7 linked regions of the Homo sapiens genome follow. The protein of the gene in region 1 purifies or fractionates together with the protein of each later gene. This does not show direct contact. Each region holds a gene or a part of one and is shown in the gene's direction. Other genes may lie near its edges.

The links.
Region 2: the proteins of UGT2B7 (region 1) and SLC27A5 purify together in Homo sapiens (co-immunoprecipitation; one study listed by IntAct). This does not show direct contact.
Region 3: the proteins of UGT2B7 (region 1) and MPC2 purify together in Homo sapiens (co-immunoprecipitation; one study listed by IntAct). This does not show direct contact.
Region 4: the proteins of UGT2B7 (region 1) and APMAP purify together in Homo sapiens (co-immunoprecipitation; one study listed by IntAct). This does not show direct contact.
Region 5: the proteins of UGT2B7 (region 1) and MAOB purify together in Homo sapiens (co-immunoprecipitation; one study listed by IntAct). This does not show direct contact.
Region 6: the proteins of UGT2B7 (region 1) and ACAA2 purify together in Homo sapiens (co-immunoprecipitation; one study listed by IntAct). This does not show direct contact.
Region 7: the proteins of UGT2B7 (region 1) and MTTP purify together in Homo sapiens (co-immunoprecipitation; one study listed by IntAct). This does not show direct contact.

Annotation. Positions count from the first base shown.
Region 1 is NC_000004.12:69,109,463-69,113,944, forward strand, and holds the end of UGT2B7 (UDP-glucuronosyltransferase 2B7 isoform 1 precursor), read left to right. Parts: intron 1-2,994; coding exon 2,995-3,274; 3' UTR 3,275-3,525; downstream 3,526-4,482. UniProt on the Homo sapiens protein: UDP-glucuronosyltransferase (UGT) that catalyzes phase II biotransformation reactions in which lipophilic substrates are conjugated with glucuronic acid to increase the metabolite's water solubility, thereby facilitating excretion into either the urine or bile.
Region 2 is NC_000019.10:58,508,676-58,513,758, reverse strand, and holds the start of SLC27A5 (long-chain fatty acid transport protein 5), read left to right. Parts: upstream 1-1,766; 5' UTR 1,767-1,803; coding exon 1,804-2,491; intron 2,492-2,635; exon of another isoform or gene 2,636-2,828; coding exon 2,829-3,038; exon of another isoform or gene 3,039-3,753; coding exon 3,754-3,912; exon of another isoform or gene 3,913-3,975; intron 3,976-5,083. UniProt on the Homo sapiens protein: May mediate the import of long-chain fatty acids (LCFA) by facilitating their transport across cell membranes. Also catalyzes the ATP-dependent formation of fatty acyl-CoA using LCFA and very-long-chain fatty acids (VLCFA) as substrates.
Region 3 is NC_000001.11:167,926,800-167,931,281, reverse strand, and holds part of MPC2 (mitochondrial pyruvate carrier 2), read left to right. Parts: intron 1-4,482. UniProt on the Homo sapiens protein: Mediates the uptake of pyruvate into mitochondria.
Region 4 is NC_000020.11:24,975,448-24,979,929, reverse strand, and holds part of APMAP (adipocyte plasma membrane-associated protein), read left to right. Parts: intron 1-1,047; coding exon 1,048-1,163; intron 1,164-4,482. UniProt on the Homo sapiens protein: Exhibits strong arylesterase activity with beta-naphthyl acetate and phenyl acetate. May play a role in adipocyte differentiation.
Region 5 is NC_000023.11:43,766,782-43,771,263, reverse strand, and holds part of MAOB (amine oxidase [flavin-containing] B), read left to right. Parts: intron 1-1,845; coding exon 1,846-1,957; intron 1,958-2,547; coding exon 2,548-2,610; intron 2,611-3,645; coding exon 3,646-3,798; 3' UTR 3,799-4,482.
Region 6 is NC_000018.10:49,789,235-49,793,716, reverse strand, and holds part of ACAA2 (3-ketoacyl-CoA thiolase, mitochondrial), read left to right. Parts: intron 1-1,389; coding exon 1,390-1,565; intron 1,566-2,117; coding exon 2,118-2,247; intron 2,248-4,482. UniProt on the Homo sapiens protein: In the production of energy from fats, this is one of the enzymes that catalyzes the last step of the mitochondrial beta-oxidation pathway, an aerobic process breaking down fatty acids into acetyl-CoA.
Region 7 is NC_000004.12:99,619,364-99,622,682, forward strand, and holds part of MTTP (microsomal triglyceride transfer protein large subunit isoform 1 precursor), read left to right. Parts: intron 1-1,697; coding exon 1,698-1,868; intron 1,869-3,313; coding exon 3,314-3,319. UniProt on the Homo sapiens protein: Catalyzes the transport of triglyceride, cholesteryl ester, and phospholipid between phospholipid surfaces. Required for the assembly and secretion of plasma lipoproteins that contain apolipoprotein B.

The DNA of each region.
Region 1 (4,482 bases):
GGATTGCATTTTCATTACGGCTAAAGGTGTTGAGAATCTTCATACGTGCCTACTGATCATTCATATATCTTCTTTGAAAACAGTCTATCCAATCCTTGGAACATTTTTAAACTTTGCTATTTGTCTTATTATTAAGTTTAAGAACTATTTATATATTATGGGTCATGTCAGATATATAACTTGTAAATATTTTGTCCCACTCTGGGTGCACTAAATTTTACTTTTTGATGTTGGTCTTTGAAGCACAAAAAATATAATTTTAAGTTAAATTTTTAATAATTGATTTTTTCAAACCCAAAGATATCAATGTGCAAAATTCCTTGTGGAGTCCAGCTACCATCAATTCAGCATTTATAGCTACTATCAATAATGTTTTTTTATATAAGCAGGGTATCATCTAAAGGAATACTTGAAAAATACTTTATCACAAAAAAAGAAGGATAATGAATGATAAAAATACCTTTAAAGAAGATAGGAAATAATTGAAAAAGAACACAAACCAGCTTGGACAAATAGAAAAAAAATATATAAAGCAAATTGGTAGATTTAAATATGATTATACAAATACTTTCACTCAATCTAAACAGACTTTAGAAAAGAGCAAGTAATTAGTAAAGACATAAAACATTTGAAGAACACAATTAACAAATGGAATCTTATAATGTAAAATGATACAAACGCACATACATACACACACAATAAACATATATGTATCATATATATCAACTTGAAGACACATTTTCCTAGAGCATGTCGAATAGTTATCTGAAGTGATATGTGGTGGGCAATAAATCAAGATTTAGTACATATAATAAGGTTCAATATCATAAAGACTATATGATCCAGCCATAGTGGAAGTAAGGGAGGTTATAAAAACTATAACTAACATATCTTTAAATTTTAGAGATCAAGAGGTGAATCACAACTATGTCTCCACTTTTATCTCAACAATTCTACTCCCAGTTATATACCCAACAGATATGTATAAATAAATCTAATACCATATAGAAGAATATTTATGACAGAATTATCAATATTGTCCAAAAATTGTTAGCAACCCAAATATCTATTAATCATAAAATGAAGACATAATCTGTGCTTTATCAATCAACAGAATACTACACAGCAATGGAATTACCCAACAACTGCTACATTAAAAAAAGACACTAATGAGTACGTATTATATAATTCAATTACATAAACAAGCAAACTAATGTATGCTATTCGAAGTCAGGCTAATCCTTAGTTGGTGGACAAAAGTGGTGACTAAATGGTTCAGAAAAAGAGAGTTATTCTAGGCAGGTTGTGATATCCTATACCACAATCTGAACAGTAGGTAAATCGATATCTTCACCTCAAGATAATGTTCAAGATGATCTTACATTTTTGAACTATTCACTTAGTGTATGAATATTTATCTTTTGTATTTAATATTTAAATGTTTATTTTATGAGATATATAATGCATTTTAAAATTCTAGGACTCAAATAGCAAAATAAGCACAGAAAATAGAGAAAATCCTAGTGGTTCCATCATAATGTGGCCAGTAAAAGCCTCTCTTAGAGGTAACATTAGAAGGAAGCCACAAGAAGGGAGAGAAGCATTCCTTGGGTTGTAGCAAGAGAGAGTACTCCAAGAGCGGGAGAGAGGGGAAAAAAATGTGTAAGGTACTAAGATGAGAACACCTTTGGGAGCTTAAAGTAAAATAGAAGGCCAATCTAGAAGACAGTGTGCAGGGGAAAAGTGTTAGGAAAAGAGTTTGCCCGTGTCTAAAAATGTAGGGTTCTGTAGACCAAATAACAGAGTTGGATTTTATTCTAAAAATAATGAGAAGCCAGGCAAAAGTCTTAATCAGGGGAGTGCTTTAAACTGACTTTAATTGAAAAAATCATTCTGGCTACAGGGTGGGAAAGAGTAGGAGACAAAAGAGTAATGTAGAAGCAAAGTGACTAGCTATGAGGCACGTCACTCACCATGACACAATTACTTTTTCGGAACTTAGAGATGATAATTCTCATATTGCATTTTCACGATCTTTCTCATAGCACTTAAAAGGGCTCATGATGTTGAGCATGTTCTCCGTATGTCTGTTTGAGAACTAAGAGTGTAATTAGATTGTTCATAATACAAAGGATAAATGCATAAGGGATGAATATCCTATTTTCCATGATGTGATTATTTCATATTGTATCAAAACATCTCATATACCCCATAAATATATACACTTAATATGTACCCTCAAAAACTTAAACAATTAAAAACAAATTAAAAATGCCTTATATTTTCTCTGCTTCAAAAAAAATTAACTTTCTCAGCTAACATTCAATTTCTACTTTAAAAATATTTCTCAATGAGAGAAGTCCAATTTAAAAGCCAAACTTTCTATGATGACTCAAATTAAAATACACAAATTCGATGTCAATTCTTTGACATTTATTTTGAATTATTTGGCCCTTTAAAAGCCTTTCGTAAACTTGATATGGACAGGCAAATTAACTTACTTTCAGTATTAGGGAGGAGACCATGCTTCATATCGTCTTATGCCCAATTTCTGCCTCCAAAGAAAGAAGTAAAAACTAAAAGGCAGAAATGAAATCCACAAGCAGACAGCCCAGTGCCACACCCTGTGCCTGATAGTTAAAGATCGACCCCTGACCTAACCAGTTATGTTATCTATAGATTCCAGACATTGTATGGAAAAGCATTGTAAAAATCCCTGTCCTGTTCTGTTCCATTCTGATTACTGGTGCATGCAGCCCCCAGTTATGTACCCACTGCTTGCTCAATCGATCATGACCCTCTCACGCAGACCCCCTTAGAGTTGTGAGCCCTTAAAAGGGACAGGAATTGCTCACTCAGGGAGTTCAGCTCTTGAGAGAGGAGTCTTGCCGATGCTCCCAGCCGAATAAAACCCTTCCTTCTTTAACTCGGTGTCTGAGGGGTTTTGTCTGTAACTCTTCCTGCTACATTACTGTCTTTATTTTTATCTTTCAGATATAAAGAGAATGTTATGAAATTATCAAGAATTCAACATGATCAACCAGTGAAGCCCCTGGATCGAGCAGTCTTCTGGATTGAATTTGTCATGCGCCACAAAGGAGCTAAACACCTTCGGGTTGCAGCCCACGACCTCACCTGGTTCCAGTACCACTCTTTGGATGTGATTGGGTTCCTGCTGGTCTGTGTGGCAACTGTGATATTTATCGTCACAAAATGTTGTCTGTTTTGTTTCTGGAAGTTTGCTAGAAAAGCAAAGAAGGGAAAAAATGATTAGTTATATCTGAGATTTGAAGCTGGAAAACCTGATAGGTGAGACTACTTCAGTTTATTCCAGCAAGAAAGATTGTGATGCAAGATTTCTTTCTTCCTGAGACAAAAAAAAAAAAAGAAAAAAAAATCTTTTCAAAATTTACTTTGTCAAATAAAAATTTGTTTTTCAGAGATTTACCACCCAGTTCATGGTTAGAAATATTTTGTGGCAATGAAGAAAACACTACGGAAAATAAAAAATAAGATAAAGCCTTATGAGCTCGTATTGAAATTTGTTGAACTTATATTGAAATTTGTTGTTCTAATTCACAGTATACTCACAAAAAAATTTACTCAGCTTAACTATATTTCACACATTGTACATAAACACAAGATCATTAAGAAGTCCACTGACAGTATCAGTACTGTTTTGCACATACTCAGAATAATTTGGCTTCATTTTGAACAGGATTGTATTGTTTTAACTGCTGCTAAAGAAACTATTACATAGTTAAATTGTACAGAAAGTCTCTCTTCCTTTTGATATTTTAAGATGAGTAGTATTGCTTGGCTTTTATAATGCATGCAGCTTTATTCTCATATTTTTCCTAAAATTTATGGCCAAGTGTTTACTGTTTTAGAGCTTAAGTCATTTCTCAGTGGAAATTATGGGGAATTAGAAATACAGCAACTCTTACCTTCTTCCTACTGTAAAATTGAACTATTTTGTAACATCTTTGGTTTCATGAGCCAATTCTATTTTTTCTAGATATTTAAAAATATACATCTGGTTGACTTTATTCTCATATTTTTAATTATTTCAATAGTTATTTGGGAACAGGTGGTGTTTGATTAAATGGGTAAGTTCTTTAGTGGTAATTTCTGAGGTTTTGGTGCACATATCATGTGAGCAGTGTACCCTGCACTCAATGTATATAATCTTGTATCCCTCACCCCCTCCCACCCTCCCCTCTGAATCCTGAGAGCCTATTATATTTTTCTTGTGCCTTTGCATCCTCATAGCTTAGCTCCCACTTGTAAGTGAGAATTTATGATGTTCAATTTTCTATTCCTGAATTACTTCACTTAGAATAATGCTCTCCCACTCCTTACAAGTTGCTGTTAATGCCATTGCTTTGTTTCTTTTTATGGCTTAGTAGTATTCCATGGTGTATATATATAGTATGTATATGTGTGTGTGTATACTTGTATATGTCTATGTGTGTGTGTATA
Region 2 (5,083 bases), on another chromosome or scaffold:
GATTTGACTCCGGTTCTCACCCCGCCCTCTCCTGGGGTGGTGGTGGGGGCTGGGGGGCCGCTTGCCTGCCCCAGGGTCAGGCTGGGCAAGGTCCCTAGCTCTCTACCCAAGCTGTTACTCCCTCATGGGGCGCCTAAGGAGACTCAAGTGGACCCATCATATATGGGGGCTGGGCCTCGGGACTCTCGCTCTAATAAAGGACTGTAGGCCATGGGGCCTAAACCACGAAGCTGTGAGCACCTGGATCAGTGCGTGCCTTGCCCTCATAGACAAGATGTGAGTGTCAGGGTTCAGCGTCCCTGTTCTTGGGTGGCATCCATGCGGCCCACAGGCTGTCCTGGGCAGGAACAGGATGGTCCACTTTGCCATCTAGGACCTCTATTCTGTAGGGGCTAAGGTGGGCTGCATATATAACCAGCACTTGGTTCTCTTGGATCCCTCAGTCCTGTGGGGAGTAGGATAGGCAGGCCACATCTGAGGTGGGTCTCCGAGAGGGAGGCCACGTGAAAGCCCCATCATACTCCTGGTTGCTGCTGTCCACGACCTTTAAGGCCCCTCCCATAGATCTTCCAGTCAGGCTCTAAGGGTCTTTTGGACTTAAGACTTCCCCTCCCCGACCTTGATGGACATGGCTGAGCACCTTACTTGTGGGGAGCCCAGGGGGATCTTTGGGGCCAGGTTGCACTGAGGGTATATAAGCCCCCATATATCTGCCCTTGGTGCTGGGGGCAAAGTTCAGGGAGGGCTCCGATGGCCGTGTTGGGGGCAGGAAACAGTGAGGGGTGGGATCCTGGGGCTGACTGCTGGGCGGTTGGGGACACCACCCCTACTGGCCAGCCAGTGTCCCAGGCCCCTGCATCCAGCGGAGAGAGCAGCCACTCTTTGCCCCTCTCCTCTTCAGCACAATAGTGGCTCCTAGCCTAGGTGCCCTGCCATAAGGATTTGGAGCTGGTGGAGTGGGGTATGGCCCCAGGCCATACCCCAGCCTGACCTGCCAGGCTCCTAGGCCAATGGCAGCTCCTCTGGGTTCACCTTCTGAGACTGCTTCCTCAAGGTGAGAGGCCAGGGCTTTCATGATCCAACTGTGTGCATCATGGGCTGACTTCAGTCTCCTGAACCCCAGGACTCCATCGTCGTCAAAGCCAGAGGTGGAGCAGAGAGTCAGAGCAAGCACATGGGTGGGGGGCAGAGCTGGGTTTGAATCCAGGCGATGCCAGTGTTCCTGTATTTACTGAGCACTTGCTGTATGCCTGGCAGGAGGGTACGATTCCTCGGATCATGGGACAAGGGGCTTAGCCTGGCTGAGCCCCTCTCCTCAGGGTTTCAGTGGGTGTCACAGGAGGACCTCCCAATGAGGTCCACCTTGCTGTCCTGTTGCTTTTCTGTTTGGCCTGATTGGAGTGTTCCCAAGGGCAGGGATTTCTGTGCTCTGAGTGTCTGGTACCCAGCAGGGATGGGAGGGGAGGCAAGGGAGTTAGATGCCAGCCCTGGAGGGTGGATGGGGCAAGCAGGACAGCAGGAAGGAGGCTAGTGGTGCCCAAGGGGCAGAGACCTGGGAACCCAGAGGCCAGTGATGGAAAGGGTTAGCGCCAGGCAGAGAGGGGCTGGACCCACACACAAGACCAGGCAGAGCAAACAAACGTAGAGGAGAAGGGCTGGGGGCAAAGTCCTGGGGAGAGGACCAGCCACTGTCAGCAGTGCCAGGGCCACCACCCCTGGGGAGGAGCCATTGGGCTACTCTTGAGGGGCCAGAGGTGAGCCTGAACACTCCACAGCTGCTGCTCCTAGGGAGGAGCTGGTACCATGGGTGTCAGGCAACAGTTGGCCTTGCTGCTGCTGCTGCTGCTCCTGCTCTGGGGCCTGGGGCAGCCAGTGTGGCCAGTCGCTGTGGCCTTGACCCTGCGCTGGCTCCTGGGGGATCCCACATGTTGCGTGCTACTTGGGCTGGCCATGTTAGCACGGCCCTGGCTCGGCCCCTGGGTGCCCCATGGGCTGAGCCTGGCAGCTGCGGCCCTGGCACTAACCCTCCTGCCAGCACGGCTGCCCCCAGGACTACGCTGGCTGCCGGCTGATGTGATCTTCTTGGCCAAGATCCTCCACCTGGGCCTGAAGATCAGGGGATGCTTGAGCCGGCAGCCGCCTGACACCTTTGTAGATGCCTTCGAGCGGCGAGCACGAGCGCAGCCTGGCAGGGCACTCTTGGTGTGGACGGGGCCTGGGGCCGGCTCAGTCACCTTTGGTGAGCTGGATGCCCGGGCCTGCCAGGCGGCATGGGCCCTGAAGGCTGAGCTGGGTGACCCTGCGAGCCTGTGTGCCGGGGAGCCTACTGCCCTCCTTGTGCTGGCTTCCCAGGCCGTTCCAGCCCTGTGTATGTGGCTGGGGCTGGCCAAGCTGGGCTGCCCAACAGCCTGGATCAACCCGCATGGCCGGGGGATGCCCCTGGCGCACTCTGTGCTGAGCTCTGGGGCCCGGGTGCTGGTGGTGGACCCAGGTGAGGGCCTTGGAGCCAGTGGAGAATGGAAGGGGGCAAGGGCAGGGACTATAGGACAGGGGTTCTGCTGGGACTGGCAGAGGCCCTTGGTCCCCACCTGCCTACTTTCACAGGCAATTATAATCAAGACTTATGAGCAGAAAGTAGTTCTCAGGTCATCAGAGTTTAATTTTCCCACAATTTGACCAAAAATACTAATGATGGGATTCTTTACCAAACAACATGGATGCTTTTCTCTACTAGCTGCTCCTCTGCCTGCATCTGTGGGTCTCAGATCCCGCCTCGCAACCTCAAAGGTGAGCCTTGCCTCTGTTTCTCCTCTGACCCATCTCTGCAGACCTCCGGGAGAGCCTGGAGGAGATCCTTCCCAAGCTGCAGGCTGAGAACATCCGCTGCTTCTACCTCAGCCATACCTCCCCTACACCAGGGGTGGGGGCTCTGGGGGCTGCCCTGGATGCAGCGCCCTCCCACCCAGTGCCTGCTGACCTGCGTGCTGGGATCACATGGAGAAGCCCTGCCCTCTTCATCTATACCTCGGGGACCACTGGTGAGGGTGCCCATTAGCCCTAGCACCAGCCTCTGAACTCTCAGGCTGACCTGACCCCACACTTGACTTGTGACTCAGTGTTGACCTCTGAAACCACTTTACCCTCTGATTTTGACATTTGTTTTTTGTTTGGCTGTTTTTTTTTTCGAGGCAGAGTCTCGCTCTGTCGCCTAGGCTGGACTGCAGTGGTGCAATCTCGGCTCACTGCAACCTCCACCTCCTGGGTTCAAGCAATTCTCTTGCCTCAGCCTCCTGAGTAGCTGGGATTACAGGCACACACCACTATGCCCAGCTAATTTTTGTATTTTTGGTAGAGACAGGGTTTCCCCAAGTTAGCCAGGCTGGTCTCTAACCCCTGACCTCAGGGGACCTGCCCAACTCAGCCTCTCAAAATGCTGGGATTACAGGCGTGAGCCACTGCTCCCAGACTTGATTTTGATATTTGGCCTGAACTCTGACCCCCAATGTAATTTGAGAGGTCAATGCCAGAATTCTTCCTGTGTCCAGTAAACAGCCACTGAAACCTTTGATCTTGACATATTACTTTCAGTCCAAATTCAGCCTGTGAACCCAACCACAAATCCCTATACTTGACTGTTCTCTGAGAGCCTCAAACCCCAATGTAGGCCTGGCTGTTGGAGATCTATCCCTCTGGTCAGGCCCCTCTCTGTGCTGTCATGTCACCACCCTGCCCTTGCCATGCCTTCATCCCAAGGCCTCCCGAAGCCAGCCATCCTCACGCATGAGCGGGTACTGCAGATGAGCAAGATGCTGTCCTTATCTGGGGCCACAGCTGATGATGTGGTTTACACGGTCCTGCCTCTGTACCACGTGATGGGACTTGTCGTTGGGATCCTCGGCTGCTTAGATCTCGGTAAGCCCACTTCTGAGGATCCCTCCAGTCTACAGGACCACGGGAGTAAGTGTCGGCGTGGGGCTGTCAAGGCAAAAAGACACCATAGGTTACCCAGCACCCTGTGTTCTCACTTTTGAGAAGGGACACCCACCAATGACTACCAGGGCCGCATGGACAGAAGCTTGGACACCCACACAGTCCCTGATGGCCATGCTTTGGTCAGGAGGTGACAAGACCTGATACGAGTGATGGTCACAGGCATCCAAGGAAGGTGTGGTGCTCAGGAGATGATGGGGATGCTGGCCCAGATTTGTGACATGGCCCCAAGGGCAGCTGGAGTAGGAGTGCTCTCAAGCACTCCACAGGGCTGTCTCTCTGGACTCTTGATTCAGAGTCTAGATGGGGACCTCTCCATAGCTTGTTCTTTTTGTTTTCTCTCTTTTTTTTTTATTTTAATTTTTATTTATTTATTTTTTTTCGAGACAGAGTCTTGCTTTGTCACCCAGGCTGGAGTGCAGAGGCATGATCTTGGCTCACTGCAACCTCTGCCTCCTGGGTTCAAGCAATTCTCCTGCCTCATCCTCCTGAGTAACTGGGATTACAGGCGCCCACCACCACGCCCGGCTAATTTTTGTAGTTTTAGTAGAGACGGGATTTCACCATCTTGGCCAGGCTGGTCTTGAACTCCTGACCTCGTGATCCACCTGCCTTGGCCTCCCAAAGTGCTGAGATTACAGGTGTGAGCCACCGCACCTGGCTATTTTCTCTCTCTCTCTCTTTTTTTTTTTGAGACAGAGTCTCGCTCTGTCGCCCAGGCTGGAGTGCGGTGGCATGATCTCGGCTCACTGCAAGCTCCGCCTTCCAGGTTCAAGCGATTTTCCTGCCTCAGCCTCCTGAGTAGCTGGGATTACAGGCACGCACCACCACGCCCAGCTAATTTTTGTATTTTTACTAGAGACTAGGTTTCACCATGTTGGTCAGGCTGGTCTCAAACTCCTGACCTTGTGATCTGCCCACATTTGCGGGCATTTGCCTCCCAAAGCGCTGGGATTACAGGTGTGACCCACCACGCCCGGCCTTTTTGTGTTTTCCAGCTATTATCATGGCCATGTGTGGTTGCTCATGCCTATAATCCCTGCACTTTGGGTGCCAAGGCAGGAGGATCACTTGAGTCCAGGAGTTCAACACC
Region 3 (4,482 bases), on another chromosome or scaffold:
CCACCCACACAGAGTTTGTATTCTCAGAAGAATTCATAAAAAGGAATATCAGCTGGGCGCGGTAGCTCACACCTGTAATCCCAGCACTTTGGGAGGCCGAGGCGTGTGGATCACCTGAAATCAGGAGTTCGAGACCAGCCTGGCCAACATGGTGATACCCTGTCTCTACTAAAAATACGAAATTTAGCTGGGCATGGTGGTGCACACCTGTAATCCCAGCTACTCTGGAGGGTGAGGCAGGAGAATTGCTTGAACCCAGAAGATGGAGGTTGCAGTGAGCCAAGATCGTGCCACTGCACTCAATCCAGCCTGGGCAACAGAGCAGATTATCATCCTTGATGCAGTTGTTCAACACTTAACATATTTTTTGTGTGCTATCCTGCTTTTAAACTAACTTTAAGAAATTAGAACTGTTTATGCAGATGTGCTAAAGGAGAAGAAAGCCCTAAGCTATAAATAGTTTATCATTTCCAGGTCATGTAAAAATATTAATTTTGCTTATAACAGAGAATGAAATATGTTTAAAGTGCTGTATGGTACAGTAGAAAGAGGACTAGGATCAAAGAAACTGTGTTCTAGTCGTTGCTCTATCCAGAACTCTCCTGAGTGTAAGACAAATTACTTAACTTGTAAGTGCCTCATCTTTTTCATTTATAAAAATGAGGGAGCTTGGACTTTCCTTAAAGTCTTTTCCAGCTAATAATCTATAATTTGGTATTCTCTTAGGACTTTTCTTACATTCAGAACCTTCAGGAAACTCAGATTTCATTGGGGAAAGTCATATAATTATTGTTAGATTAGGATTTAGGGATCTAGTTTTTTATCCTTGTTGGATTATTTATTTTAAACAAGTAATTTGTTTACTGGGCCTCATTTGCCTGATTTATGAGTGCCTACAGTAGATGATTTCAACAGTCTTTCTAAATCTAAAAGTAACTGATTCTTTGTACCTGAAGAAATAAGTAAATTTAAAACGTATCATCCCTACAATGCATCTTAGCTATTTTAGTCTCTTTACCTGTTCTTTACTCTGGAATTTCAAACCAAAGTGTATTTTCAGTCAACATTTTTAAAAACATTATCTACCCATGATGTTTTGGGTACTATTTTAGTGATAGCTATTTCCAAGGCATTGTGGAAAATATTAAAATTATATGGCTCTAAAATGGTAGCTTAGTCATGTTCTTAGTGTTAAATCAGAACTAGCTTTGGCACAAATAAAAATGAATGATTTTTTGGCCGTCAGTATCCATGTCAAAGATTAACCTTTACATATTCTAAGGATTTGTATCTAGTTTGTCACATGATAGCAAACAGGTGAACTTGTGTAATGTAAGGAATTAAGAGGGGTGTTAAAAAGTAACAAACCATAAAGGAGTGGCATGAAAGGGATGGGAAGAGGTAGGGAAATGTAGTGATTTTATGACCTCTTAGCATTCAGTAAGAAACTTTATTTTTCACAGAGGGATATAGTGAATACCTCAATCCAGTATTTGTAAGTGTGTATATGTGCTTGAGAGTAAAAATTACCTATTCTGTTCCAAAAAGTTAGTCTTTACTTAGGGAGGGAATCATATATACGATAGGTGGCCTACTTTCTGGGTAGGATTCATATAATATTTTATTAACAGTAATTTCTCTCAAATAAGGAAATTAGGAAGTAAGTTTATGTCAGTTTATTAATAGGTTCATTGAAGTTCAAGGCAACTAAATTTGTTTATTTGAAAATTTATGTCTGTTATTATTTGCTTATGATATTCACTTGTAGAATTTCTCAAATTCTATGAAAAGTTAGAATTTAAAAACATGAGTTTCACTTTAAAAATAAGGCAATAAAACACAAAATAACTTATAGTCAGTATTTTTCATTCTTGAACATAGTTCATAGTTTAAAATGTGTAGACTTTTTTTTTTCTTTTTTCGAGACGGAGTTTCGCTCTTATTGCCCAGGCTGGAGTGCAATGGTGCAATCTCGGCTCACTGCAACCTCTGCCTCCTGGGTTCTAGCGATTCCCCTGCCTCAACCTTCCCAAGTAGCTGGGATTACAGGCATGCACCACCACGCCCGGCTAATTTTGTATTTTTAGTAGAGATGGGGTTTCTCCATGTTGGTCAGGCTAGTCTCAAACTCCCCACCTCTGGTGATCCGCCCACCTCCGCCTCCCAAACGGCTGGGATTACAGGCATGAGCCACCACGCCCGGCCTAAATGTATAGACATTTTAAATACTTGTTTAATGTTTCTAAATTGTCAGCATTGGAGGCCTTCTTCAACATCCAGTAGTACTGTTCAAAGAAACAAGATGAAAATGTATTAATTCTTTTTCTAAAAGAATATATAGTATGTTTGATGTGGACAATTTCTTTCATCTTGGGCTATAAATTAATGTCTTATGAGGAGATTTTTCTTCAGTATATTTTCAGCAGTTCAAATTTTCCACCTAATCAAGTTATTTCATTTATCATAATGGATGTTAGCCAGGTATCTGTTAGTTTATACTTCTGCTTATTCTAATATTAAGGTATTATAATCACTTCACGTGTCATAATTATCTATTTTTATGCTCTCCTATGAGAATAGCTGTGTCATTGTACAGAACATAAGCCTGTGTTTTCCAGGTCTAGAATGACACATGTGACATTGTATTGTCACTATTTGAGTGATACCTATTTCTAAATGCTTTGTTTTGTCAAAACTTTATGTTTAGAAATGTTGAAGTAAGTTGGAATGTTTTTTCGCTACCATATCCACTGTTGATCAATTGCTGTTTTCTGGAAGACAGCCTCTGTATCTGTTTTATATATGTCTAAATTTACCTGTCTAGCTTTATTTGACATATTATTTACTCTTACAGGAAAAAAAAGCTAAGAAATGTTAATTGAATGTTAATTAGCTACAATGAAAGGGTTAAGTTTTCTTTAAAATTTTGTTAACCCATTGTGTGACTTTTTTTTTTTTTTTTCTGGAGTGCAGTGGTGCGATCTCGGCTCACTGCAAGCTCCACCTCCCGGCTTCACGCCATTCTCCTGCCTCAGCCTCCCGAGTAGCTGGGACTACAGCCGCCTGCCACCACGCGCAGCTAATTTTTTGTATTTTTAGTAGAGACAGGGTTTCACCGTGTTAGCCAGGATGGTCTCGATCTTCTGACCTCGTGATCCGCCCATCTCGGCCTCACAAAGTGCTGGGATTACAGGCATGAGCCACCGCGCCCGGCCGACCTTTTTTTTTAACAGTTAAGAAAACACTGTTTGCAGTTATAGATATTAAACTGATTTTTTTGTCACTTGTCCACATCTTTTAGTATCTCAGAAAAATTAGCAATTTAGAAGGCCTTATGTATTGGCTACTGCTATTTTTCTGTTTAGTACATAGCAGTTGTTAAACTAAAATTAGAGCTTGTTTTCATAGTTTAAAATTATTCACTCACTAAAATACCTCTCTTGGTCCAGGTTCTAGCAACCATAATTTGATGTTTGAAGTTTTTTCAGTTGTTTGGTTTGGTGGGGAAGGGCTGTTGTTAATATTGTAAAACTATTACCTAGCTCTAGGCAGTTTAGTAAATTAGTTACCAGGCAAACCTACTGAAAAGATCGACTATTAACCCCAAAGGATCAACCATTTAAGCCTGTCAGCCATTTAAGCTTGAAACCAGAATCTAGAGGCTTTACTCAGAAAACAATTTTGGGGTGACAGAAACTTCAGCTTTCAAATAGAACAAGAGAAGTCTGCTGAAGAGTTCAGAGTAAAAATGAACACCCATTCAGCCAGAGACTAAAACAATACATGGACTGACTCTTGATTGATGAAGCGAAACTCCATGCGAGGATAAAAACTAAACTTAGTAATTGATACTGTGTATGAGCCAGAGACACTGTGTATGACAAAGAAAAATGAACCAGGTGTAATGATAGGAATCCCAGAATCTCACCCTAAATTTCCAGAGAGTTTGAGAAGACTGACTTATAGGATTAATGCATTATGGCATCAGACTCAGGGGAAGAGAGCTGTGGTCTAAGAGTAGAGTAACTAATGAGTGAAATCTAATATATCCTTGGCATAAAGGGAACCTGATGTCCCTAGAGATGAGAAAACAGCAAATTCCAGCCTTGAGGATGAAGCAGTGTCGAGGCAAATCTGGGTCAGACAGAAAGTTTGAATATCTTTGATTAGCATCTATCCTGAACATGGTGGATCCAATTCAGTTCTGTTGGCACATACCTATTATTTGTCAAGGAAGATTAAGAAAAGGACCTTGTCTTCGGGTTAATGTGACAGATGCATAAATAATCATTTTAACAGAAAATGATAGAAGAATATACAGGCTGCTTTGGTAGTTAAGAGAAGGAGCAATTTAGCCTAACCTGGAGTTTTTTTGTTTGTTTTTTAAGGCTTCCTTGAGGAGATGCAACCTGAGATGAGTTTCTGATGGATAGGAGTTAGGTAAAGACTAAGCAGGATATTGAGAAGGGACAGCATGAACTG
Region 4 (4,482 bases), on another chromosome or scaffold:
ATGGTTGCTGTTCCAAGTGGAGCAAAGAGCTGGTGTGAAGGCCCTGGATAGGGAGATGCTGGTGTGGTTAGGACCCAGCAGGGAGGGGCTGGTGTGAGGGATGCAGAAGGCACAAGGGAGAGAGGGGGCAAGAAGGTGCTGTGGCCAGGTTGCGGTGCTCAGAGGCTGCTGCCAGGACTTGGCTCTAGGTGAGAGGGGGCCATTGTGGGGCTCTGAATAGAGGAAGGTCATGATCCGGCATGGCTGCTGGATTGAGAATAGACTACAGGGGTCAAGGGAGGGAGCAGGGGCGAGGCGAGAGGATGGTGGCCCCAGCCAGGGTTGTAAGGAGGACATGGGGAGACGGGTTCAATGGTGTCTTTTCAAAGTGGCCTCAGCAGAACTTGATGGTGGGTTGGGAGGCGTGACATACTGGCATGTGGATGGGAAGGACGAGTAGAGGCAGGAGTTTCTGGAGCCGTGTCTGTGAGTAGAAGGGCTCCAGGGCCCAGCTCAGGCTCCTGCTTCAGGAAGAGCCTGGTGGGCCTCGAGAATATCAGCGGGAGGTGGCGTGCCCTGTGCTGGACCATGGGACGGTGGCTCCAGTCCCAGGAAGGTCTCCCCTTGCTCCTTCCATCTTCTCTGTGAAATACGAGGCCGGGTCATCAGGTGTGAAACGTGGGCACTGCCCCCCACCACCCTAGGTAGACTCCAGTGGCTGTAGGGCTGTGAGTCACAGGGGTGAGGAGGTCCAGCTGCCCTGAGGCATTGGATGGGGGTGGGGAGCTGGGGAGGCTGGAGGATGGGTGGGCACAGGCCTCAGGATGCTCTCAGGTGACAAGATTGCTGAAGGTCTTGCACTAGCACATTTATATTTTTATATTTCTTTTGTACCATGATGTTTTCTGATATCCTAGAACAGTTTTTTCTTAACCCTTGTATTTCTGGCAACTGAGGATGTTGTTAGAAAGTGCCATCTTTATCAAAGAACTGAGAGCAGGTGCTCGGTACACATTTTCTTCACATGTGTATTTATAGACAGATCTCTGGAATTGCATTATTTTGCAGCTTCAAAGAACCCCCGCTCTTGCTTGGTGTTCTGCATCCAAATACGAAGCTGCGACAGGCAGAAAGGCTGTTTGAAAATCAACTTGTTGGACCGGAGTCCATAGCACATATTGGGGGTAAGTCTAAGCTTGGGTGGGGGGGGAGCCTTCCAGGCTGTCTGTTGTCTGAGGGGGCGGGTTCTGTGGGAGCAGCTGCAGTGGCACGCTGCCCCTGGACTGGGGCCCTGCACATCCTTCTTAGCTGCGGACGTGGGACTTGGCCCTCAGACATCACATGGGAGGCCCTAGTGGCTCTTTCTGCTGGTCTCATCTGCCCAGTTTGCATGCCATTTTAGCACTGGGTGATTTTGAATTCATCTCTATGGAACACTTTGTTGTGCTCAAAGTGTTGTGAAAGGAAAAAGGCCAAATACAGATACTGATTTTTAGTTCATTTATCAAAGTTAAATAGCTATTTGACAGCACAGTATTTCTTAGTTCCATTTGCTTTGTATAGATTTCACTGTGATGAAGACAAATGGTTCTCAATATTTCCACTGTTTTTGTCTGACTGTTTGAAATCTCACCTTGATGGGTACACTTAAGGGTAACCATCTGCATCACACTTGCCCATGCCTCAGAACTAGAATTGGGTCTGGTTCTAATACTTGCATCTCTAGCAACCTTGAACAAGGCATTTTCTGTTTGTTAAAATGAGAATTAAGTTTAGTATTGGGAAGGCACAGATAGTCACAGATAGTTTAAAACTTAATCTGGTATGGGCTTGCTGAGCAGCTTCTTTGGAAGTGCCGCTTGTTATTCTGAAGCACACTGTTCTCCAGGCAGTGGGTGGCTGTGGATATGTGCACACAGGGTGCTTCTGTTGTGCTCTCAAGGCCGGTCAGTGGCCTCTCTTCTAGTGACGTTTGACCAGCTTCTCTTGCCTGGGCCCTGTTATTTGACACAGGCCCCAAGGACTGGTCCATTTCTGCAGTTGGTTTGTTTTCTTGGCTGTCAAAGTCAAAATTGTTTCAAGAAGAGTAAATATCATGATAGAACTTTGTATTTCTCTTAAAAAGACATTGGCATTTATTTGTGTAAATTTTAAAAGCTTTAGCTTTTTTTGGTGAAAAATCAAATCTTGCTCTTTAAAACTGAAACTTAACAGCAGTTGAAGTGCAAACCAATGATCTTACCTCCCAAAGAGAGCACTTTCCTGTCTTTTTCTTTTTCACTGGGTTACTTCTCATTGTACTTTGTCACCAGGTCCCAGCTTTTTCTCTTTCTTTGATGAGCTGGTGACATTTCTTGGCCAGGCACAGTGGGGTCCTCTCTGGTGGGTGTGAGCCGCAGGGACCTGCCACTGCTGTCTCTGCCACCTCATTTGGAAGCTGTCCTGGGGGCTGGCTGGCAGGTTGCTGACAGTGGAAGGAGGTACTAGCTCTGGGGAGTGCTGGGAGAGAGTAACCACCAACTATAGCAGGCTTTATTTTATTTGTTTTTAAGTAGACTTTATTTTTAAGAGCAGTTTTAGGTTCACAGCAAAATTGAGCAGAAGGTACAGAGATTTTCTGAAAAAGAGTTTTTATTACGATTGGGTGTTGCATTTCGTCAAATACTTTTTCTGCACACATGCCATGCACAGCCTCCCACATGATCAACATCCCCCACCACAAGGGTAAGTTTGTTACAAGTGATGTACTCACATCAATACGTCAATAGTACTCGGAGTCTGTAGTTTACGGTAGGGTTCACTCTTGGTTTTATACATTCTATGGGTTTGGACAAATGCCATGTATCCACTGTTATGGTATCTTACAGGGTGTTTTCACTGCCCTGAAAATCCTCTTTGCTCTGCCTGTTCATTCCACCCTTTTCTTTTAACCCATGGCAACCACTGATCTTTTTGCCATCTCCATAGTTTTGCCTTTTCCAGAATGTTATGTAGCTGGACTCATACAGTATGTAGCCTTTTCAGATTGGCATCTTTCACTTAGTAGTATGCATTTATTTAAAATTCCTCCATGTCTTTCCATGGGTTGATAGCTCATTTCTTTTTAGCACTGAGTAATATTCCATTGTATGGATGTGCCACAGTTTAGTTACCTACTGAAGTACATCTTGGTTGCTGCTAAGTTTTGGCAGTTATGAATAAGGCTGGTATAAACATCTGTGGGCAGGTTTTTGTGTGGACCTAAGTTTTCAGCTCATTTGGGTAAATACCGAAAAGCATAATTGCTGGATTGTATGGTAAGAGTTAAGTTTTGTAAGAAACCACCAAGCGTTTCCAAAGTGGCTGTACCATTTGCCTTCCCATTAACAATTAGTGAGAGTTCCTGATGCTCCATGTCCTCGCCAGCATTTGGTGGTGTCAGTGTTTTGGATTTTGGCCCTTTTAATAGGTGTATAGTGGTGTCTCGTTGTTTTAATTTGCATTTCTCTGATGATATTTGATGTGGAATATCTTCATATGCCTACCTGCCATCTGTATATCTTCTTGGTGATGTGTCTGTTCAGGCCTTTTGCCCATTTTTGTAATTGGGTTGTTCATTTTCTTATTGTTGAGTTTTAAGAGTTGTTTGTGTATTTTGGATAATAGTTCTTTATCAGACATGTTGTTTGCCAATATTTTCTCCAGTCTGTGGCTTCTCATTCTTTTGACAGTATCTTCTGTAGAGCAAGAGTTTTTAATTTTAATGAAGTTTCACTTATTAATTATTTCTTCATGTATCTCACCTTGGTTTTATATCTAAAAATTCATCATCATACCCTAGGTGTTATATCTAAAAATTCATCATCATACCTAGATTTTCTCCTATGTTCTAGGAATTTGTTTTGTATTTTATATTTAGGTCTATGATCCATTTTGAATTCCATTTTTGTGAAGGGTATAAGGTTTGTGTCTAGATTTATTTGTTTGCATGTGGATGCAAACAAATTTGTTCCAGCACCATTTGTGGAAAACACTGTCTTTTCTCCATTATGCATTGCCTTTACTCCTTTGTCAAAAGATCAGTTGATTGTATTTATGTGGGTCTGTCTCTGGGCTAAAAATTTTATCTGTTCTATTGATTTATTTTTCTATTCTTTTGCTAATACCACATTGTCTTGATTACTGTAGCTTTATAGAGAATCTTGAAGTTGAGTAGTTTCAGTCCTCTGACTTTATTCTTTTCCTTCAATATTGTATTGGATATTTTGAGTCTTCGCCCTCTCCATATGAACTTTAGGATTCATTTGTCTGTATCTACAAAATAACTTGCTGGGATTTTGATTGGGATTGCATTGAATCTATAGATTAAGGTTGGGAAAAACTGACATCTTGACAATATTGAGTATTCCTGTCCATGAACATGGAATATCTCTCCATTTATTTAGTTCTTTGATTTCTTTCATCAGAATATTCTAGTTTTCCTCATATAGACCTCGTGTATATTATATTATATTTATACCTAAG
Region 5 (4,482 bases), on another chromosome or scaffold:
GTATTGAAAGTGAAAGACAGAATGGTTGTATGGGTACTTGAAGTATGGTTTCTACTGAATGTGTATTGTTTTAACACCATCATAAAGTTAACAATTATACGTTGGAGACCATCTGTATTCTATATAATATCTCTCCTTGTATTTTCTTCTCCTTTTTGTGATGACTACAATCAGAGCAGGTGAAAGAAAACCCACCAATGCAAGCCAGCTCATTTGGTTTTCTAATAAAAGGCCCAGTGGTGTACAGTGTTGACTAAGATGGAACATGGATGTTAGTTCTTGACATCGCTTATCAGATATAAGAGAACCATGAGACAGGATGAATAATGGCATGTTGACGGTGCTTTCCTTATGGTATTTTTGTCAGAGCAACAATGAACTGCCCCTCTTACAGGCCAAGTGCTATGACATTTCAGTCCCTTGTATAGCATGTGGGCAGTCTACTAACTATTAAATATTATAGGGTGATGATACACCAGGCAAAGAATATAAGATAAAAATAGAGACTTTGACATCTGTTAGACATGGTTCAAATCCTGGCTTTGCTATTTTCTAGGAGTGTGGCTCTTGGCATATCACTGAACATTTCTCCAAGCCTCAGTCTTCTCATATGTAAAAATGAGATAATGATAATAGTAGCTACATCACAGAGTTCTTTAATAGATTGAAGAAATAATGCAGTAGAGAGAGGAAGTATAACTAAGTGGTTAAGACTGTAGGTTCCAGAGTCAGATTGCCTGTGTTCAAATACCAACTCTGCTACTTACTAGCTGTGACCGAGAGCAAATTACTTTGTCTTTGTTGCTGGTTAGGTTCCAGGAAGCAGACCCTGAAACAACGATTAGCAGACAGGATATATATTAAGGCATGCCCTTAGGATTGGCAGCTGTGGAAGGGAGAAGGAAGCAGGAGTGGGCATAGGGAGAACTTGGGCTGCAGTGCAGTTCCAGTGAAGGCCTCAGCTGACCCCAGAGGAAGTTCCAGAACTAGAATGGCCCTTCAGAGTGGGAGGTCTCAAGTTGGAGCTTGGGAATCAGGTATTTACAGCCCGTGGTGATCAGTCACTGGATGCAACTGCTATTGGAAGGAGGCATGACCTAGTAGGTAACATAGTTTTTTTTAGCAGAGGCAATCTCCAAAGAGGGCTGACATCAGTAGGCCCTCTTCTGGCAGCACTCCCAGCAGCTGGGAATAAGTCTTTCATTCTTGAAGGGGGCCTGCGTGGTTCATCACAATGTCCACCACAGTCTACCTCCATATTCTTATCTGCAAAATGGTGATAATAATAGTACCGACCTCACCAGTACAGGCAAGTGTTCAAGGAATAGGAGTTATGGAGCCATAGTCAGACTCTCAGATTTGTTAAATGTTACTGATTGAAAGGGTCTTAGAAATCAGTGGACCATTCCCTTTAAGAGGCAAGGAAGCCAGAGCACAGTGAGAGTAAGTGATTTGCCAAGTTCACTAGTGGAATAGCCAGTGGGGAATTGGGGGCATGTATCACCTTGCCACAGAGCCAGTGAGCCATAAAGGGAGCCATGTGACTGGGCTTACACAGTCCCTCACTTCATGTTGATGAAGCAAATACATAATTTACGTCCATTAATGTCAGCTCCTTCACCTGCAACTCTTGGTGCAGGAGTGAACTTTGGCTTTTATTCTATTTTGTTTGTGACAAGGATCATGTAAGAGCTGGAGGAACCACATAAACATTATTCCAAAATTGCCAATGTCCTTCTTGATTGTTTAGAATCTGTGGAAGCTGACCAGCATTGGTCTTTATGGGAAAACTTTTCTCTGACTCTCTGAGACTGACCACTTTTGCCTCTTTGGTTTTGTTCCAAGGGTTCTACGCCAGCCAGTGGACAGGATTTACTTTGCAGGCACCGAGACTGCCACACACTGGAGCGGCTACATGGAGGGGGCTGTAGAGGCCGGGGAGAGAGCAGCCCGAGAGGTAGGGTCTGGGGTCATAGATTATGGGGAAGGAGGCAACTCATGGTCCTGACATGTAGGTCAAAGATATCTGAGAGCCTGGAGACCAACTCTCCAGTAACCCCCATCTTAAGACCCATAAAATACTATTTTAACTATTGTCTCAGGTGAAGTGAACACCTTAGCCCGAAGTAATAATGAAAATACCTAACATGTCACCCGAAGTAAAAAGAGCCCATGGGGCAAACGATCAACCTGACTATACTTGAAAGGTAACCTAGGTCTGATATTCTAGAACCAAACATGCTTCTATTAGGACTCAAAATTCAATTCATTTCACAGGAAAGATTTTCTGACAGTTCCTCTGATGTCATCCCTATTTGAGGTGTGTTCATAACTATTAAAATTTATGGTAAGCCTAATGATTGGAACCTCTTATACCACAGGAGAAAGACCTTTTGGCGCCTCTTAAAGGTTGTATGGAGTGTTCTGGCCTTTACCTTGGTGTTTTTGATGGATATCTCAAGAGACAGTTACTTAGTCCTTTAGGGAGCAGATTAGAAGAAAGATGGTGTCACTTTTGCTATTTGCCAGTGTGTTCTTTCATTTCAGATCCTGCATGCCATGGGGAAGATTCCAGAGGATGAAATCTGGCAGTCAGAACCAGAGTCTGTGGTAGGCTATGTTTTATTTCATGAAATTAGATATCTTTTCTCTAAACCCATTATTTTCAAGAAGAGCACACTTGTATATATTCACATACCTTTTCCTAAGTGATTCAACTAAGTGATTTAAACATGAATGTTTAAATAAGTATCATGGGTTAGGGTAGAGGTGAGAGATTTAGATGAACTTTGATAAATTTGTAGCTGTCACATTCATTACAGATTATTAGGAAAAAATATTTTTTGATGAGGAGGGAGACATTTCTCGGAGACTTCTAAAAATAATAACTCAATAAATGCCTGTCAAATAAATATCTAGCCTGGTGATTCTCCACATGAGGTAGGAAAAGAAAGGAAAGTGTGTTAGCATCTCCTGTCCAGGGACAAACAAATGGAATGAAATGGAGAATATTTAGATTAAAATTTTATTTTTAATATACTCATCATTTTTGTAATAAAATCCTAGGAAGTTTTCCTGGCTGGAAGGAGGGATGCATAGAGGTTAGAGTGCAAACGCACTTTAGAGGACAAAGTCACAAAGGTCAGAATTATTGCTCTATCCTTTTAAGTGTGAAGTCAAAGAGAATAGGCCTGCCACTCCACAGTCATTCTCTTAGTGCTTCTGCCAGGGATGGGATTGTGGGCTGTAGGGACCATTGATTCATTTACTAACAAGTATTTATGGCACACGTGTTCTGTATCAGCCATTGTGGCAAAGGCACAGCAGCATTTTTGTGGAGCTCAACATCTGGTGGAGAATGCAGATGATAACCAAAAAGTACAGAACAGTGAAGAAGACATGCTGAGAAAAAATGCAAAAGGAGAATGTCATCCTAGGCTGGGGTCTCAGGAAAGAAAGCCTCCCTGAGGAAGTGAAGGGTCCAGTGAGGAAGACAGGGTAAACAGTATAAGCAGAGGGAACATCGTGTTTACTGGTCTAGACGTTGGCAAGAATGGGTCATGTTCAGAGAGCTGGAGAAAGTACAGACTTTCTGGAATAAAGTGCACAAGCCCTGTACTAATACCCAATGTTTTCTGAACCTAGGATGTCCCTGCACAGCCCATCACCACCACCTTTTTGGAGAGACATTTGCCCTCCGTGCCAGGCCTGCTCAGGCTGATTGGATTGACCACCATCTTTTCAGCAACGGCTCTTGGCTTCCTGGCCCACAAAAGGGGGCTACTTGTGAGAGTCTAAAGAGAGAGGGTGTCTGTAATCACACTCTCTTCTTACTGTATTTGGGATATGAGTTTGGGGAAAGAGTTGCAGTAAAGTTCCATGAAGACAAATAGTGTGGAGTGAGGCGGGGAGCATGAAGATAAATCCAACTCTGACTGTAAAATACATGGTATCTCTTTCTCCGTTGTGGCCCCTGCTTAGTGTCCCTTACCTGGCTTAGCGTTCTGTTTCACCAGTTTCCAAGTTTATTGCCCTCAAAATCTTTAGAATAGTTAAATTGGCTTGTTTAAGGTTCTTGCTGCCCCACAACACACCTTGCCCATGCACAAGGAATGAATTTTTTCCTACCATTATGGCTTTGTGCTTGTTCTTCCTCTTACCTGTAATAGCCTCACCTTCCCTAGTTCTTTGCATTCGTCCTTAGAATACTGTATTGTTACAGCTGAAAGACAGTAAAGACCATTTAGTCCTCACCTTCTGTTTTAGAGTTGAGCAAACTGAAGCCCACAGAGGTGGAACTTAATTACCTAAGAGCCACAATAAGCCACTGGTATCTGGGGGACTAGAACACAAATCCAACGCTTTTCCCACCTCTTTGGATGTTTTCCCCAATTATCCTCCTTCACTCCCTGTCATAGTTACCGATGGTGTCCCGTTGTGTGGGTTTACTCTGTGCTAAGTTGTCTTACACTTCTCAAATGC
Region 6 (4,482 bases), on another chromosome or scaffold:
TGACAGCAGTTCTTTTAGCAGTGCAGCAAGTTGAAGAAATGTGATATTTAAAAAATTAAACTGTTAAAGCAAGTGGAAACTCTTATTTAGGAATATTAAATGCTTGAAGTAATGAGGATAAAGTCCATCTTAGCATTTCAGAAGGATAAGTGGAATAGAGCTGATGCCATCTAACTCGTGTGTTTTTTTACTTATATGTTCATAGTGGAAGAGGATTGGTCTAGAAGTCAAGAGTTATCAGTTCTGTTTCTACTTCTACCACGCACAAGTTATCAAGCTCAGTCATATCATTTATTCACTGAACCTCTGTAAGATAGAGATAACAATATTTGCCTTCCCTATTTATCTAATAAGGTTGTTTTAAAACCAAATAAGGGCATATAAGGAAAGTATTTTGCCAATTGTAAAGTGATATGAAAATTAAGGTTAGTATTATTCCTGACCCTATTTCCAAAGCTATAGATTACTACAGTACATTCTAGTCAGTGGAGGTCAAAGTAGGTAAGATGTTTTACTTATAATTGTATTAGTGATTGCTCCCATAATTTCTTCAGGTTGCCTATCACTATTAAGTTTCAGTTAGATTACTTTGTGGCATAGACAACTTGGTAACTTTTTAATTGCTTATCTCACCAAAAGAAGTTTAAAAGGGGTATTAAGTCCATTTATTGCCATTACATCTATAGCAAACAGACAGATGCTGCTAACAGTCTTAGCAGTACCTGGTGAAAAAAAATTGTGGTTAAAAAAATATAATTTTTAAAAATATAATTTTTAAAAGATGCAAAATGCATCTACATAAACACATGACAGTATCGTAAATCCTCCAATACGGAAGGTAAGTTGTGTAAGTAAATAGTAAAGACTCTATAATTTTTAAAAGATGCAAAATGCAACTACATAAACACATGATGGTATCGTAAATCCTCCAATACGGAAGGTAAGTTGTGTAAGTAAATAGTAAAGACTCAGGCTGAGCGTGGTGGCTCATATCTGTAATCCCAGCACTTTGGGAGGTCAAGGAGGGTGGATCACGAGGTGGTGAGTTCGAGGCTAGCATGGCCAACATGGAGAAACCCCATCTCTACTAAAAATATAAAAAAAATTAGCCGGGCATGGTGGTGGGCACCTATAATCCCAGCTACTGGGGAGGCTGAGGCAGGAGAATCACTTGAACCCGGGAGGCAGAGGTTGCAGTGAGCCGAGACTGTGCCGTTGCACTCCAGCCCAGGCGACAATGTGAGACTCCATCTCAAAAATTAATAAAGACTCAATATTAAAGTAGACTGTGAGGAAAAGGTAGATCAGAAATTAAATTGAATAATATGTTTGATTTATTTTCATGTTTCTCTCTTTTATTCTTATGATAGTCTCTCTACTATTTTTCAGCTAATGATGCTGGCTACTTTAATGATGAAATGGCACCAATTGAAGTGAAGACAAAGAAAGGAAAACAGACAATGCAGGTAGACGAGCATGCTCGGCCCCAAACCACCCTGGAACAGTTACAGAAACTTCCTCCAGTATTCAAGAAAGATGGAACTGTTACTGCAGGGAATGCATCGGTTGGTATCACCACACAGATTAGCTTGAATTCTTCCTGGTGTGTTCAACAAAAGTAATCATGAAGTATCTTGTAAATACTTTTTATGCCAGTCTTTAGTTGTTTAGCTTAAACTAATAGTGTTCATATTCAATTAATTTAGGTTTTCATAGACCCACACAAAATCTTTTCATATTTATTTATATAATACTCTTCTGATTTCTTAATTTTTTCAGAACTAAGAAATTTCAGAAACAAATCTATCTGGCTTATTTTGGTTTTCAAACTTTTTTTTTTCTCATGCATACAGTTTATCGTATTTCTTCTTACATCTACTCACATCTAGATAAAAGTTTTTCCTTGACACCCTTTTCCTTGTTCTTTAGTAAAGTTGTATTCTGTGCCTTAAAAAATCTCCTTCATCCACCACAGTACCACTTTTCTAATTGTATCTCACACTGTGCACTGGCTTCCTATGTACTGCCATATTCCTAATACTACTAGTCCATTAGTTCAAACTTTGATTAACTGGATTATTTTAGCCTTTAGTTAATCTAGTATTTTTATTTTCAAGGGTGTAGCTGATGGTGCTGGAGCTGTTATCATAGCTAGTGAAGATGCTGTTAAGAAACATAACTTCACACCACTGGCAAGAATTGTGGGCTACTTTGTATCTGGATGTGATCCCTCTATCATGGGTATTGGTAAGTTTATAGTAAAACAAACTGGTTCTATAATATTTCTGGAGGTAAGTCTTCTTTGGCATTCAGAGTCCTGAAAAAGTGGCCAAACCAAGGTCACCTGTAGAGAAAAGAAGATTGGTAATCAGTTTAAATAAAAAATCTTTATGAAGAACTGTCCTAGACACAATAGAAAAACCAAGACCGTGTAAACTCCATGGAGGAAGTAATCATATCTTAGTGTCCATTTGAGATTTAAAAAATCAACACACAGTAATTATATCTTATTGTTCCTTTGAGAGTTTAGAAATCAACACAGAAAATAACAGAAGAATTACGTGATCCTGACAAGATAAAAGAAATTATGAGATGGGAGAAATCCTGGGGTGAAACAGAGAAGGCTGTATGGAGAAGGTGGTATCGCAGCTCCTTGCTGGTTGTTTTACACACATTCAGTCTTCCCACGTCTCCAGTAAGGGAGACTTCTTTGTGAATGAGAAAATTGAGGCTTAGGGAGGTTGTCTTACAAGGTTCCAAATCAGTAAGTGACAGCCAGGGTGTGAATCCAAGTCTCTCTGAAATCAAGTGCTCTCTTCACTGTGAGTTAAACGCATAGTCTCAGGAAGTCAAATTAATATTCCTCTTGCTCAGGTGAGTATTAGCAAAATAAAGACTTATAATTAGATTGGTAAAATGCTAGATGGAAAAAATTTGGAAGTCCATAAACATGTATAGTCTTGGCTTAAAATATTTGATTTAGAAGTAGAACAAAGAGCTTTTTGCTGGATGCACTCCTAGGAACCACACACGATGCTGAATTTTAATAGTTCCTGTCATTCTCTGGGGGAACAGGGAACCAATTAGGTGCCTTACTTAGAAAAATAAAATTTGGTGCTCAGTAACTTTGATATATCCCACCTACATATAACCTCCCACTGTAAGGAAAAGCCTGCCCTAGGGTATAGATTTCAGATTGTTTAGCCCTTTTTTGAATAACTAAATTGTTTTCTGAGGTGGGTTCCAAGAGAGGAGGAGGAGGATAACCTGTTACTGACCTGCCATCTCAGAGATCCTTCAGTGTAAGCCTACAGGTTCTACTCAAACAATACCACTTACACTGACTTGGGATTAATACTCAACCATATTTGCTGCCATGTCCCTCAGAGAAGACATATCTCTGTATAGAGTTCCTAAGAAAAAAAGCTGGCATGTTCATATTTTGTCATCTTTCACTATGTGTCTCAAATTTATGTCAGCAAGAACTGCAAGATATTTTGACACATATGAAAAGTCAATCTTAAGCTTATTAGCTTTTGGCTATCCACTATTGGCAAAAGATAACTTTTGTCTTAGAAATGGAAGGTGGTGGAAAAATTAAACATCCGTATGTTGTTATGGCATTTATTATTTTGATATCTAGGGTAGTGGTTCCCAACCTCAGATGATTGTCAGAATCCACTCATAACCCCCACACCCTTAGATTTTGTTTCAGTAAGTCCAGAGTGGAGCCCAAGAGCAGAGTTGGTTTTGTTTTTTGTTTTTGACACAGAGTCTCGCTTTGTCACCCAGGCTGGAGTGCAGTGGCGTGATCTCAGCTCACTGCAACCTCATTCTTCCCAGTAGCTGGGATTACAGGTGCCCGCCCCCACGCCTGGCTAATTTTTGTATTTTTAGCAGAGACAGGGTTTTTCCACGTTGGCCAGGCTGATCTCAAACTACTGACCTCAGGTGATCCGCCCACCTCAGCCTCCCAAAGTGCTAGGATTACAGGCGTGAGCCACCATGCCCAGCCCAAGAGCAGAGTTGGTTTTTTTCCTGCATACACCTAGATGCTTTTGATGATCAAACAAATGTATGTGACATGGGTTGGCTATTTTATACTCCTTTTTCAGTTTAACTTTATTTAATAGGTTCTGGTAGATTAGCATAGCCAGTGAACCAAGAAAGCGTTGTTTTCCTTCCTTCTGTTCCTGGGCCTGAATATTTGCCCTAAAGTACAAAGAATGCTCCTGTGGTAGGATTGTCATTTTTCCTCGGGGCTTGAACAGAGCTGTACATTCCAGATGTCCCACAGTATCAGCTGCCCCCTTCATCTAGAAGTTTGGCTGTCACTTGTATATAGTGATGGGATTAAACAAAGTAACTCGTTGAAGCATCCCAGATGAATAAGTGGGGAGAATAAGTTATTAAGTATCTAGTGGGAACTGGTTTGTTAATCTAACTTACAAGAATAGTGGTTCTCAGTTCCATGATTACCTA
Region 7 (3,319 bases), about 31 Mb from region 1:
GTTCATCTTCTTTTGGTATTCCACCAAGAGAAGAAATTTCACTTTAAGGTAAACTTTCCTCTTTTGTTGTCTTCAGTGGGGAAAAATAAAATAGATAATTTCATCTGTGCAGAAACTAACTATTAAATGTTAAGAGTCCTTAAGTCTTTTCATCAGCATTCCTTTTTCTAAATAAAATACTCTAAGCTCCTTTAATTTTTCTAATCTACCTGTGAGATTTAATGAAAGTGTTTTACTTTGAATATAAAACAATGTCTTTGAACTAGTGTGAAGATGAAAATTATTAGCCTTCTGTTACAGAATTTTTAAAAAGGAAATAGAAATGCAACTAATTTTAATTTTTTGATATTTAAAAACACATTCAGGCAAAAGTGAGATATGTGATAAAATCAAATTTTTGATTCATCTTGAGCTATGGATGAAGGAACTGAGAGCAATCAAACAGTAGCACATTTAATGTGAAGTGTGACCCACAGTGTTACCAAAAGGAAACACAGAATGAAAAATGACACTGGTCATCAAAAGGTTCACAATATAACTTAGGGCTTCCCACATAATCAGTCATCTTTCACCTCTTTCCAAAGTACTTTCTAGACAGAAGTTTTTCCAAATGAAATGGAATTGAATTCTTTGCAAAGAGAAATCAACAACAGCAACAACAACAAAAAGTAATTTGGATTTTTTAAAAAAGTACACAGTATCCTTAAGAATCTACCCTTATCCATATTGTAACCAATCTGTCTTCCATTTCCACTTGTTCATTTGAAAAAAATATCTTTTAAACCTTTGCTGAATATAGGACATCAGAAGGTACTCTAAGTGATTCAGGGATTAAAACGACCTCTGACCTATTTTTACACTGATCATAACAGCAGCAGGGGTTTTAATTTGCGCAGCAAAAATTAATATTCCTGTCAAAACATAAGGGCATAAAACTCTCATTTAATTGTGAAAGCAGTTTCTCACAGTTTGATTTAAAGTCCACAATTCAATTACAGTAGAAGTAAGTCTTCTGTTGAAATTATTTATCCTCTTCATCATTATCCAGGGCACATTCCCCAGCCAATGCAATCTGTTTATCCAGTTATCTAGAGCATCATTAAAGGACCCACCATATTTTTCCTCCTAGGACCTACTGTACATGCCCCACTGTAAGAATGATTTTTTGTAACACAATATTTTTTCAAATATCTTGGCAATCAAGGGCTTACGCCTCTAGAGACTCTTTGGAGAAGGTAATGAAATGGAATTAAAATAGCTGCCTAGAAGCCAACAGAGAGATAGTTAACAAAAAACTATAAGCATCGATTGTCTTCTTGGTGAGTTTAGACTCCATTTTAATATAACTTGGGTATTTCTGACCTGCTGAGAGGACTGGGTTCCAAGAATGTTTTCATTTTGGTCTTTGTTATGCCCATACAAAACAATGTAGTATCTTACAGACACTCCCCACATCTGCAACTGAAGGCAGGGGAGAGCTCAGGGGAAGGGCAAACCTTCCCTGCCCAATATCTGAGACTCACCAGGCCCTGGTTACCAGCAGAACTCTAAGCACATCCAGGTCACCTCTGAATCCCTTAAGTGTTTCCTTCCAGTCACTGGCATCATACGTTCAGACCCTGTAAAGTTACAGCTGTTAGTCCAATACCATTAAATATAATATGAACAAGTTTTTTCTTTTTTTCTCAAATGTTTAGGGTGACTGTGGTAATAACCACTGACATCACAGTGGACTCCTCTTTTGTGAAAGCTGGCCTGGAAACCAGTACAGAAACAGAAGCAGGCTTGGAGTTTATCTCCACAGTGCAGTTTTCTCAGTACCCATTCTTAGTTTGCATGCAGATGGACAAGGATGAAGCTCCATTCAGGTAAGATGCAGCGTTCAGGTCATGTTCCAGGACCATCCCCAGTGCACCAGGAACTTGCATTCAGTTTAGAACATTCAGTTTCAGAATTAAAACAAAACAGTAGAAACCCAGGGAAAGATGAATTTTCTTTAAATGAGTAGAAGAATAATTGATAAGGCCAAAAAAAGTCAGTTTCTGGGATACCAAAAAAAAATCTAATGACTAGTTCATTTGATTCTGGAGATAGTTATCATATTCTAATCCAGAAACAATTTATCCAGGAAAGAAAGGCCTATGATTTACCATAGGAGTTGCCACATAGTTTCATAAAAAAAATCAGATACACATTTACTGTCTGGTATCTTCACAATAAACTGCTGGACAAAAGATTTCAAATAAAACACCTGGCAATCCATTTACCATGTTTAAGGGCCAAAATGAATTCGCAATTTTTAAGTATTCCATATAGCAGCAACTTGACCCTGTTTAAGTTTTGGCTCAAGTTTCAGAGTTTGGGATTCTGAATTTTTTTAAATAATGCTTTTGGTAAAATAGTTAGTGTTTTAAAATACAAAGATATAATTTCCATGTAACATTTGTGCTGTGTCATTTGAATTTTGTAACCATTATTTGTAACAATACTATCACATAGAGCTAGAATGCCTTGAGTCTAGGTAGCACTGACCCTTTCATAATAGTTGACCTACGGTAAGCATAAGGGTCATTTGTACAGTTAAAACAGCAAGCCACATCTTACATCATCTCCTTTTTTAAGTAGGCCAAAATTGAGCACCTTCATTATTTTACTGACATTTCATGATTCATATTAAAAAACGCATTGATTATATAAAAGTAAACGAGTCAGTTGTATTTTCAGAGAATAAAAGATTGTGCTTTATAGTTAAACTATTAAGCTGTCACTAACTTACATTAAGTTATATCTAGAATGAACCTCCACAAATGCATTTTAAAAACCCCAACCTTCTAATGGTTGAAATGCAGTGACCACCAACCCACCCACATGATTAATTGGTTTGGTTCCACATTTGCCTTGGGCCAGAGCTCTTAGAATGTTTCTCTGTCCGCATTCTCTGCTTAAATCCAGCTGGGCTTGCCTGTTACTCAAAAGGAGAGTGCTCCCAAGGTGGGGCTTCTGGAATGAAGGGTGAGACACAGCACAGCCTGCAAAGCTTAATGGCATCACCAAAAAGCTGAAATGAATTTAGTCTTTCATTCTAGAAAAATGTATGGCAGGACTCCCATATCCCAGGCATTTGAAGTGTTTCTGTTGATATAAAAAGAAATGAGAAGAAAATCACCCATTCATGGAGTAGCCTTTGACACTCATATCCTTTCTCAGATTGCTTTGGAACAGAAACTTCAAGTACATTCAGTAACTTGGCTGGAGAGGTATAGGGTGACTTAACTGTGTGTGTAATTCTGTTATTGTTGCTGTTGTTGTACAGGCAATT